Linked DNA regions of Homo sapiens: region 1 is linked to region 2. Evidence: fine-mapped expression QTL. Tissue or cell type: whole blood. Region 2 holds a variant in brackets; the other region holds the start of a gene. All regions are shown on one strand. Distances are from middle to middle.

Region 1 (5,151 bases), 360 kb before region 2:
TGAAGCAGGCAAAACTATCTGCACAGCCAATCGTGTGTGTGTGTGTCGTGTGTGTGTGTGTGTGTGTGTGATCCATACATCTGAACAGGGTTTTCAATTTCTAATGCGGCAGGGAAACTAAATTTGCTTTTACTTCCCAATCTTGACATCAAGTCAAAAAAGCACGGGTTAAGCATGGGTTAAACACTGCTGTAATATGATACTGTTACATAATAAAAGTTTCCTGTTGGCATTTACAAACACCTCCCAATATCCTCCACAGTGTTACTGGACACAAATTAAACCTCTAAATTAGAAGATTCACTGATTATGCACATAGCTGAAAAACAACGTAGCAACCAAAACATAAACGTTTCTGAGTGCAAAATATTTTTTTCTATTTTTTTTCCTTTCTGTTGAGTCCTTAACTAAAGGCTCCTATTTAATAGTTTTCAATGTCCATGATCTACACAAAGTAGGTGTTGGAAGAAAGCTGATTGGTCAGACAACTGACTTATTATTTTACTGAATCTGACATAAAATAACCAGGTGCAAAGAGGTTTATCATAAATGCAACCTGCAAAGCAAATTGTGTCAAATAAAAACACACATATGATGCTTTTCAACACCCAGAAACACTTATTTCAGACATTAGTTGTTCTCGTTTTCATGTTGCCATTTTCCATAACTGTTTCACAGGCACCAAAACGAAGATACTCCTACAGCAATATACTGCATTCAAGAAGAGAAGCATTCTTCTAGTTTCTCTTTAAAAATAAAAAGAATCTAAGCTCAATTCTAGCGAACCATTTTCTGTCAAAATTTTGCTCTCCCGTATTAAGGAAAACAAAATTTGACCAAAAATGCATACTAGCCATCATTGATTTTACACGTAAATAATTACCGTTCTTTAAAACTTGTAGGGCAGCATTTATTTTTTTTTTTCAGTCAAACTCAGTAACAAAGAGAAAAAACTGAGACCTCCACTAATAAATTACATCTTGAAATATACATGATTGTGGTGTCCCCGTGTTACTTTCAATGGTAACTGACACGTCCCGAATTTAACTGTACCAGACAGTTCTATCTGTCCCATCGCTGACCGAACAGTGCTTCTCTGTTTCTATTCATTATGTATTATACGAGGTCTAAACACAGCCCAGTATGACGAGGGAAAAAAATTACACTTCTTAGGATACCAAAGTGATGCATTCAAGATCTCTCTCGCAGTACATGCCCGTGAGCACTAACAGGCATTTTTTGATAGAGCTAAAATATGTTGGCTGCAAGCTCATTACTCTAACAACCTTCAGGCCCCCTGTTTCTGCTGGTTTTCAGAAAACCCTAGTGAAAACCAGGCACTATCCAAACCTTGCACACCAAACTTGCCAACAGCCCTGTGCAATGATCAATAACCTTGGCTACACAGTCATCGGCCCCAAATTCACGGTCCTGAAGACCAATGCAGCAAAAACCCAGACGAAAGGCTAGCTGGAGCCCCAAAGAATTACCGCGCTTCCCCTCTGCCGCATGGAGGGAAGCTATGGGAGGAGAGGAGTGGAATGAGGCTCACCAGCTCCGAAGATGCTCCGGTGACCTCTGGCTGCGCGGCGAGAGCTGGGGAGGGAAGGCGCTAGGGCAGCCGCGGCGGGCTGTGTGGACTCTGCCCCTGGTGCATTCCTCGCATTCCTGCACAATCTGTCGCCAGCCCAGGAGCCGGCAGCGCGCGTCCCCCGCTGTACACACACACCTGACTACCGCTGCGCCCCGAGCGGCCACGGCCGCCGCGGCACCTCCACTGCCCGCGCTCGCGGTGTGTCGCACTCAGCCAACACGCAGCCAAATCCCGGCCCCGCCGCTCGCTCTCCGGGTAGCGGTCCAGGGGAGAGGGCCGGCAGCCTCGGCAGCGGGCGGGGATACCAGATCCGCCAGGGAGGTGCCGCAGCTCCGCTTCAACTCCTGGCAGGGAGAGGAGGAAGCGGCGGCGCAGGAGGGCAGCGGCGAGGCTCGGCGCTGGGGAGCCGGGAGGGGTGGAGCGTGAGGATCCGCGGCCGGTAGAGAGGGGCGCACTAGGCAGAGGGGTGGGCAGGACCGGCAAGGAGTACAGGACTTCGGGGACAAACGCAAGACCGCGCGGGCAGCAGGGGCGTGGGAAGACGGGGAGGGGACCAAGGTGCAGGATCTGGGGCTAGAAGGACAGACAGCCGGCCCCGAGTGCTGAGGAGGGCGGGCGCCCAGTGGTGTCGAGGGCGACTTGGGGCGCGCGGCGGCAGGCAGCGGGGAAGCCGCCGCGAGGGCGTCCAGCAGGGCTCAGCGCGGCGCTCAAGTTCGGGGCTGGGAGCTCTGAATCCGAACAGCCCAGCGTGGGCAGAGGTCGTGCGCTGCGCGTACGGGAGACCGGGGAGAGGAATCGCCGGGAAAAGCAAATGGAGGGTGAAACTTGTGCGCCTGCCGGGGGGAGGGGAGCAGCAGGCGAGTGCGGGCAGGAACACGAGGCGGGGCAGGAAAGCCGCGGCGGCCGCGAGGCGCTGGGGACGCGGCAGCGGGAGGGAGGCCCCCGGCCCCCGGCGCGCAGGTCCTGGCCCTGGCGCGTGTTCGGGGCGAGGGCCGAGGGTCTCGTGGGCAGGAGTCTCCGCGCCCTCCCGCGAGCCCACACACTTACTTTCCAGCTTAGGCAGCGGCCGTCGTCGCTCCAGGGATCAGGGACATCGGCGCCGAGGGGTCGCCGCTGCGGCACCCGAAAAAATTAAAAAAGTGCCGCGGCGGCGCGGCTGCCCGCCCCTCCCTCCCCCACCGGCCCCCGCCCCCGGAGCGGCTCTCCCACCACCCCCGGCGGCGGCGGTGGCCAACTTGCCCCTCTACCCCTTGCCCATGGTGCCGCCTCCGCGGCCGGCGTCGACGCGGACTCAGCCCCGGAGCCCCCTCTACTGCCCAGAGGCCGCCGCCGCCGCCCGCCCCGCTGCCAGCCCTCCCGCCCGGCCAGCCCCGGGCTCCCGGGAACGTCAGCACGCCGCCGTCCCCGGGCCAGCTCCCGCCACCCCATTGGCGGGAAGGAGAGGGCTGGCCCTCCCCATTGGCCCGGCCCTCATATTGAACAGGCCAATGGGAGCTGCGGTTTCAGGTCGCCATAGAGACCGATGCTGTTCAGCGCGAGAGGGCCTGGAGAGGGTGGGTGTGAGAGAGAAGGTGTCTCAGGTCTCGGGCGCGGGAGGGGGTGGCGGAGAGGACAGGGAGATTCCCCAGCGCTGGCTCTGAAATCTGGGGCAGGCTTTCCTTGCCTTACTGCCAATCCCAACTGTGCCTGGTAGGGTTTGTCCCTGGCGTCAAAGGTAGGAACAGCTGAGCCCTTAGATGTACCCCTGACGGCGAGAGCCCAGGAGTGGGCGTTTCACTTTTCCTGCGTTTGGGGAGTCCCTGAGGCTATGCCCTTTGACCTTTGACATGTGTGCAGCTTCTGCTTCTCCAGGTGAGTTTGCACCCCATCCCTTCCATCGCTGCTTCCTCCTGACGTCACTGAGCCACCTAAATCCTACTTATGTTTGTTCTCTGCAGCCACTCCCCCTTCCCTGGGGTGGATCTTTCCTCAACGTTTTGGGTCCTCAAACTCATAACTCTTCTGAAAGACTCAAAGAGGATTTCCTTTGAGGATATTTTGGTAAGGGAACGAGGTGGCGGATTGTATGATAGATGCCAAAGCGTCAACACATGAGCTAGCCTGTTCCCTGATTCTCAAAGCAAACCTCTAATCTCCCTGTGGGCAGATATTTATTAAACACATCTGTGTGTACATCCCGCACTATGAGCTTGACAGGTGCATGTTCTTTCACTTGAGAGGTTACAGGCTTGTTAAAGATAGAGGAAACAGAAACAATCCTTCACACCTTGTGATGATTTCACAAAAGAGTAAGGGAAATGGATTACAGTTGATGGATTTTGTTTTCTATTTTCCAGTATCTCTTTAAATTTGATATGGAAATAACCTGAGGCATGAAATCAGTACACGCAAAAATCTTGAGCTTTAATAATGTCTTCTACTTTCATTTAAAATCATTTTGTGGTGGTTTATCAATACTAATTGTTTTTTGTCAATAAATTTTATGTTTAGATATCACCTTCTTAAAGTGAGATTTCATGAACATATTAGGCTTTAAAAGATGATATTGCTCTAGCCTATAGCCACTGATATTCTTACATTCTTTTGGCGATTTTACTTTTTTTAGACTAATCTCTTTAGTAAGGAGACTATGTTACTACCCCTCAAATTGGAGGGACCATATTGTGTGAAAAAGCTGATAGGATTTTGGAAATTACAAATATTTTGTTGGGAGAAACAGGTTAATGTGTGTGCAAGCTGCATATGTCTAAGTATTGTTCTGAATTTTAAGTTGGGTGATATGCTTTGCTACTGGTTTTTATCTTACTATAATTGAAGATTACAAAGATGTAACCTAAGAAATGTTAATATGGTGCCTTGATTGGAAAAAAAAAAACCTCTCCACATTTGTAGTAAAATGTGAACTCAGTTGACAGTCCTACACAGGGTAGGACTGTGGAACAAAACAGGTGAACGTGTGTATGTTCCCCCTAAATATTTTCAGAATTGAGAAGGGATCAGCAGGGGCCAGGAAGTGCTGTGCCATGGCTGGCCATCATGGAAATAGGCTGTTTTTTACTTCTTCCGGCTTTTTAATGTGTGTTTTTGTTTATAGAACAGAAAAAGTAAACCACAAATTGTTATATGAGACACATGTTTAATGAAAAGATACCAATGATTTTGCTTCTTTTAAATTTCAATAACATCAAATGAATGAAAGTTGTGTCTAATGGAAAGAAAAAATGGGTCTTTTCTCTTGCCTTAGGCTAGCATAGAAAGAAGAAAATAAAAGATTATTACTCCAATAATCTTTTTGTGTGGGTGTTTTTCTCAGATGACTATTTTGATATTGTAGATTTCGTGTTTGTCATAATTAAAATGTTACTGAAATCCACCATGAATAATGTCCCCTGAAATAAGTTGCCACTCAACATTAATTTTTTTGTTTATTTTTGTATTTAGTTGAAAGGTTTCTTTTGAACTTGCTCCTGCGCTACTAAGCATTGCTAGACAAGGTTAAAGAATCACTTCATTCCACTAAAAGTTCATGCTATTCAGACTTGGCTGTGTCTTCACTG
Region 2 (5,151 bases):
CAATACAATTAAACCTCCCTCAGGCACTGGGAGGCCCTTTTAATTATTTCTCATTTGCAGCCCATGGTCTTAGAATTAAGGGCTGAACTCTATAGTGAGTCCCAGGCTGAACCTTGAATTTGTTTACTACTGAAGGTTGGCTAAACTTTTGCATGTTTTTTATAATTTATTTTGCCCCATTTTCTTAGATGAGCCAAACCCTAACCCCCAAAACCAAGGAGTAAAAATGTCATTGAAAATACATTTTCCACTGTTTTTATTGCTTTATGAGCTGCATCCAGTGATATAATCTCTACATTTAAGAAATTTGCTTAACTGTAGAGGCCCATTATCTAATCATTTAATACAAAATCCAAGGAGCAACCATCTGATCAAAACAAATTTACAAAATCAAAATTACTCACCCAACATATGTATTCCTGTCAGATCTCATGGACCTATTGGAGGCAGGTATAACTGAAGCCATTCTCTCTACTATGTGAAAAGTCACCTTAAATTGATGTCAAGAAAGAGAGATATTGTGACTTGTTATTAAATTATAGACCTAGTCATAATAGTTCAGTTCCCAGTCAGAATGATAACCTCTCTTAAAACTTAGGTTTTCCTGTGAAATTGCTAAGAAAATTTTTCCTTTAGCATTTTAAATTTTCCTATCAAATAAAAGATGTCCTCCCTGACATGACTTTTATACCACAGCCCAGCTCTCAGAGCAGCACTTCCTCAAGAAGATAGGCCCCCTTTGAAGGTGTGGCATCCTAGCTCTTTGACCAGGTTGGTTAGCTTGTTAACTATTGGTGAGAACTTTCCCTTACATCTGTCCTTGATCCCAACACAGGTTTGATGTTGCAAACAGGCTTATTTGCTTTGAGACAACTGTATATGGATACGAGTCCTCTTTTGGTTTCTATAACACACCTACCAGGTCTTCTCAAAACTGTGTCCAGTACATACGAGAACTTTCAGTTCTCAAACATTTCAGTTCCCCATCTCCATCCAGCCCCTCGCCAACTTGTTTTCATTCTTTGTCATCACAAGTTAGGGAAGCATCCAAAGTCTGGACCTCAGAATGTCCCTTTATCTGAACTTTGCTCATTCCAGTTCACACAGAAGAACTGATAATTAAACAAAACTTATTTCCCAGGGCCTCTTTCTTTAGTTAAACTGTAGGCCATTGGTAAAATTTATTGAACCAGGGGTTAATCCACATGGAATAATAATACAGCATAGTATTTTCAGAAAACGGAGTCTCTGCCAAGAAAGGCATGAATTCACTACTTTCACTAATGCTTCTCACTTTTCACTTTTGGGACAGAAAAATCTAGAAAACTAGACAACTTCATCCTGATCTTTTTTCTCTTCACTCCCATAGCAATCAGCTGAAGTTCTATGCTGGTGAGAGCTTCAAGAACGTAGTCTCATGGCTTTCAGGCAAATCAGAACCTAAAATGTCTATAAATGCCAAACAGCAGCAAATACAAGACACCTCCTAATATGCTTGGATTTCTTTCCAAGAATGTGCATCACAGTCAAGAATCAAGTGCTCATATCCTAACTGAGTTCTCCATGTTAGAAGATGCTCCTCTTCCTGGTGACAGTCATTCTTGGCAAATTCTTTGAATGCCCCACTGGCCTCCTTTGGTCCATCTTGGTCAGACAGCAAAGTTTACAGAATAGGAAGGAAAAAGAATAGGGGACTCTATATTGGGGAATCCATGTAGCCTAAATCTTGCCACTGTTACCACCAACTAGACGTTTGCAACTGTGCCCAGATAGCAAAAAATTCCTGAGGACACTTATCCTGGAAAAGGTAATGATGACTATGAGGCAAAATAGTCTTTAACATGTGTGTTGCCTTTGTAACTTAGAACAGTAGTTCTTGTTGATAGCTTGTATACATCTGTCTCTTACCTCCTGACTCATCTCAGGCTGGTCTACCTGCTGCTCCTTCCCAGGAACCACTGGCAATTTTGAGACTCAACATACTCACTCACTACTGCTGGCACCAGCACACCTTTATTTGATATTCCATGCCATATCTCTCAATTTTATTTTTAAGGTATAATGAGGAGAACCACCAATTTCAATCTGGCATTTACCTCTGGCTTTGAGAGGTAAAAATGTTAGCTAATTAGATAAGTGTTCAGTAATTAATTACCACAGTGAATTAACTAGGTTGATTAACATGTCTGTTTCCGGTGCAGATTCAGTCAACCAGTGATCTTGATCACTAACAGTGCCAGGTAATGCCATCTAAGATTTATGGACCCCATGTAACAACTCGGTCAGACATTTAGGCAAGTAATTGTCATTTGGATGAAGTTCAGAATAATCTTGTGGAATCTATAAAAGTTGATGAAAGTAGAATACTAGTTAATGCCTTCTGGGCAGTCTTAAATTATTCTCCCCACCTTTCAATCTTCTCAAGACTCGATCCTGCTCTTATGGTAGGTTGTTTCTCAGCAATGCTTTTTGATTGACTGTATTGCAAAAGGCCAGTCACCTGAAGAGCAGGGGAAAAGGTTTCGTTTTTAAAAATTATGCACACAGGAGTGCACAAGGCAAACTCAGACCTGGCCACTGGGTAATTTGCAAACAAAGGCTGTGTGCCAGGCACAGCCCATGACTCAGTCCAGCCTTGTGATCAGGAGGGTCTTGCATCA[G/T]ATCTGCCAAATCCATGCTCCATGGTGTCTTGCCTGAGACAAAACACTTCACTTCCTACCGTCTTCCTTTATGATGCTGGCACTATTACATTCTCAATTCCATTACAGTTTTCTATCTGGCTTAATTTTGTCCCTGAACCTCTAATATTAGAAAAAGAAAGCACAGTCTTGATGTACAACTGGATAGCATTTAGGCCTCCCTGAGACCATGCTTTTGTGCTCTTTCCCTGCCTGCTAGACTAGCCCTGGGACCAGAGTCTCAATTCTTAGATGTCTCTCCATGGGGTATCAGCAAAGGTTGTATTGGTTCACCTGAGGCTGCAGCAGGCACCCCTTCCCAGAAGACACTGCCCCTTACACATGCACACACACACTAGCCTCACAGCCTATGGGAGTAGGGGTGTCAACGCACAGCAAAGTCCTCACATCTCCTCCTTCTTTGGCGGGTCTCAGAGTGGGGATGGGGTAACCAAGAGCCCTTTCCTCCTGCCACATCAGATTCCCTGGCTCTTCCATTCAGCCCATAGCACCAGCAATGGCTTGAGAGAGCTCCAAAAATGTCCTAAGCTATCCATTCTGAGGCTAAGCAGTTTATATTTTCATTTATTCATTCAATAAATATTAACTGAGCATACACCATGCTCCAGGAAGTCTAGGAAGTGCTGAAGATAAAGGCATGAAAAAGACAGTTCTTGCTTCTTTTCTTCCACAAAAATATTGACATTCCATGAATAAAGAAAACGCAAGTTACCACACTCCTCATACTAACCTTCTGTATGTTAAAACACATATACTAAGTGTAAATTCAGCATTCTCTCCTTCGTGACAAATAACTAAAACTAATTAAAGATCTTTTGATCTTTCCTTGAGTGTTTATTTTCCAATACATAGGTTATAGGTGCCTCAAAACCTTTGTATAAAAGGGGAGCTATTAAGAGTGTACAATTTTTTATGGTATAGATGTGTTATAGTTTAACATTATTACATATACGTGCAAAGAAAATGTACAGTATTTTCTATTAGCTATCCAGTCTTTCTCAGTATACGCACCCTCCTGGAAGATAGAGCAGAGGACAGTGTTTTTAAACTTGCCAATTAACAGCATCTCTGTCTTTGGTTTAAATAGTCTCATTTAGATGATTTATTTTCTTTTAGATACGCGTTCATCCAATTTCTTCCTTGTGCCCACTGCTCCCATCTGAGGTGACACGTACAAAATGGAATGGTGGGGATGAGCAAGGAGCAAGAGAAGGGCTCCTGGATCCATGTGCTCATTTCCTTGTATTATCCCTTGGCTCTATGTGATGATGCAGCTCAGGCATTGTCCGCTGTTTTCTCATAAGGGACCTGTGGCTACTTAGGTGTAGTCTATGGGTCCTTGAATGCGCTCACTGAGATGCAGCTGGCCCCATCTGGCCCTAAGGGAGCATTATGCTGGCCCTCCCCCTCACCATCTTGGATGCAGGCCTAAGCTGAATATGGAAATTCTCCTAGAGAATCACAACCTTTCTTAGGCTGCCTCGAAGGATGCAGGCCTCTGGCTGCAGTGTTCTCAGGCTGGCCTATGCCTAGTTGGATAGGGATAGCACCCTCCTCCTTTATTTTCACCCCCAAGGGTGGGTGGTCACCGCAGACCTTGGCCTGCCTCTTGCACCATTTCTCCTGCCCTCTTACTCTCATAATTAAAAGAGGAGACCCTCTTTGTACTTTTTCTCTCTGTCTTATGTGAATTTCCCTTATATCCTATCCTGAGTTCTCTCTGGTTTCTAGCAATCTCCGTGTTCAAGTCCAGACCTAGGTTTTTTTGTGTTAATGACAGTATAAACATATCTAAAATCTTTATTTTTCCTCACATTGCCTTATTAGGGACTCATAATTGCTATTGAAAGAATTCTAATTTCCTACTCTAACTCCCATTCCCCAGCAGATAGACGGGAGTGTGCACTATGAAAAAGGCCATGTATACAGAAAAGAAAAAAAGAGATTAGTATTAGGTTTCAAAGTACTATATTATAATTATAAGCAAGAATGATATCCCTAGGACAAATGCTACAACCCTACGGTGTTTGTTTTGCTCTTTTTTGGAGGGTGTTTCCCTCCACAATTCTGTCAAAATGCACTGCTGTTCTAGGCAGGGCCAGGCAGAGGGGTGGCAGCTGAATGTTTGCACAGATACCTTCCCCCGAGGGTTGGTGTAGTGGAGGCTGACCCATGCTGAGGCCCTGGGGAGGATTGCAGCATCCCCTAATCCTTGCAAAGGACTGCAAGCTCCTGTTTCCAGTCTCAGGAGATGTGGTTATGTTGTAAAAGTTTTAATAATTGTGTATGAGATTTAGAAATACAAAACAATGACATATTTTCCAGGACCCACAAGGCATTGACATCTGGAATCTTTATAAAGTTGAAATTTGCCTGAGGAAAATTTCTTGATTGACGAAATTTATTTTTTACCAGAATTATATACACACTCTCTCTATATATATATATATAG

The links. PIP is the estimated chance that this variant, and not a neighbour inherited with it, causes the effect.
Region 1: it holds the start of PKP4, and the variant in region 2 is fine-mapped to the expression of PKP4 in whole blood (INTERVAL, PIP above 0.99).

Annotation. Positions count from the first base shown.
Region 1 is chr2:158,454,709-158,459,859 of GRCh38, reverse strand. It overlaps PKP4 (plakophilin 4), which reads right to left and starts at 2,908. Exons shown (of 22, transcript NM_003628.6): 1 at 2,642-2,908. CCDC148 (coiled-coil domain containing 148) reads left to right here and starts at 3,107. Exons shown (of 14, transcript NM_138803.4): 1 at 3,107-3,445. The coding sequence starts at 3,421. LOC124907900 reads left to right here and starts at 1,726. Exons shown (of 1, transcript XM_047446754.1): 1 at 1,726-2,729. The coding sequence starts at 2,406. The coding sequence ends at 2,729. RefSeq lists an enhancer at 1,549-1,628 and silencers at 1,909-2,128, 2,159-2,218, 2,239-2,288, 2,539-2,588, 2,809-3,178 and 1 more.
Region 2 is chr2:158,097,379-158,102,529 of GRCh38, reverse strand. It overlaps UPP2 (uridine phosphorylase 2), which reads right to left and starts at 654. Exons shown (of 7, transcript NM_173355.4): 1 at 405-654. The coding sequence starts at 466. The variant G/T (reference allele first, on the strand shown) is at 2,661.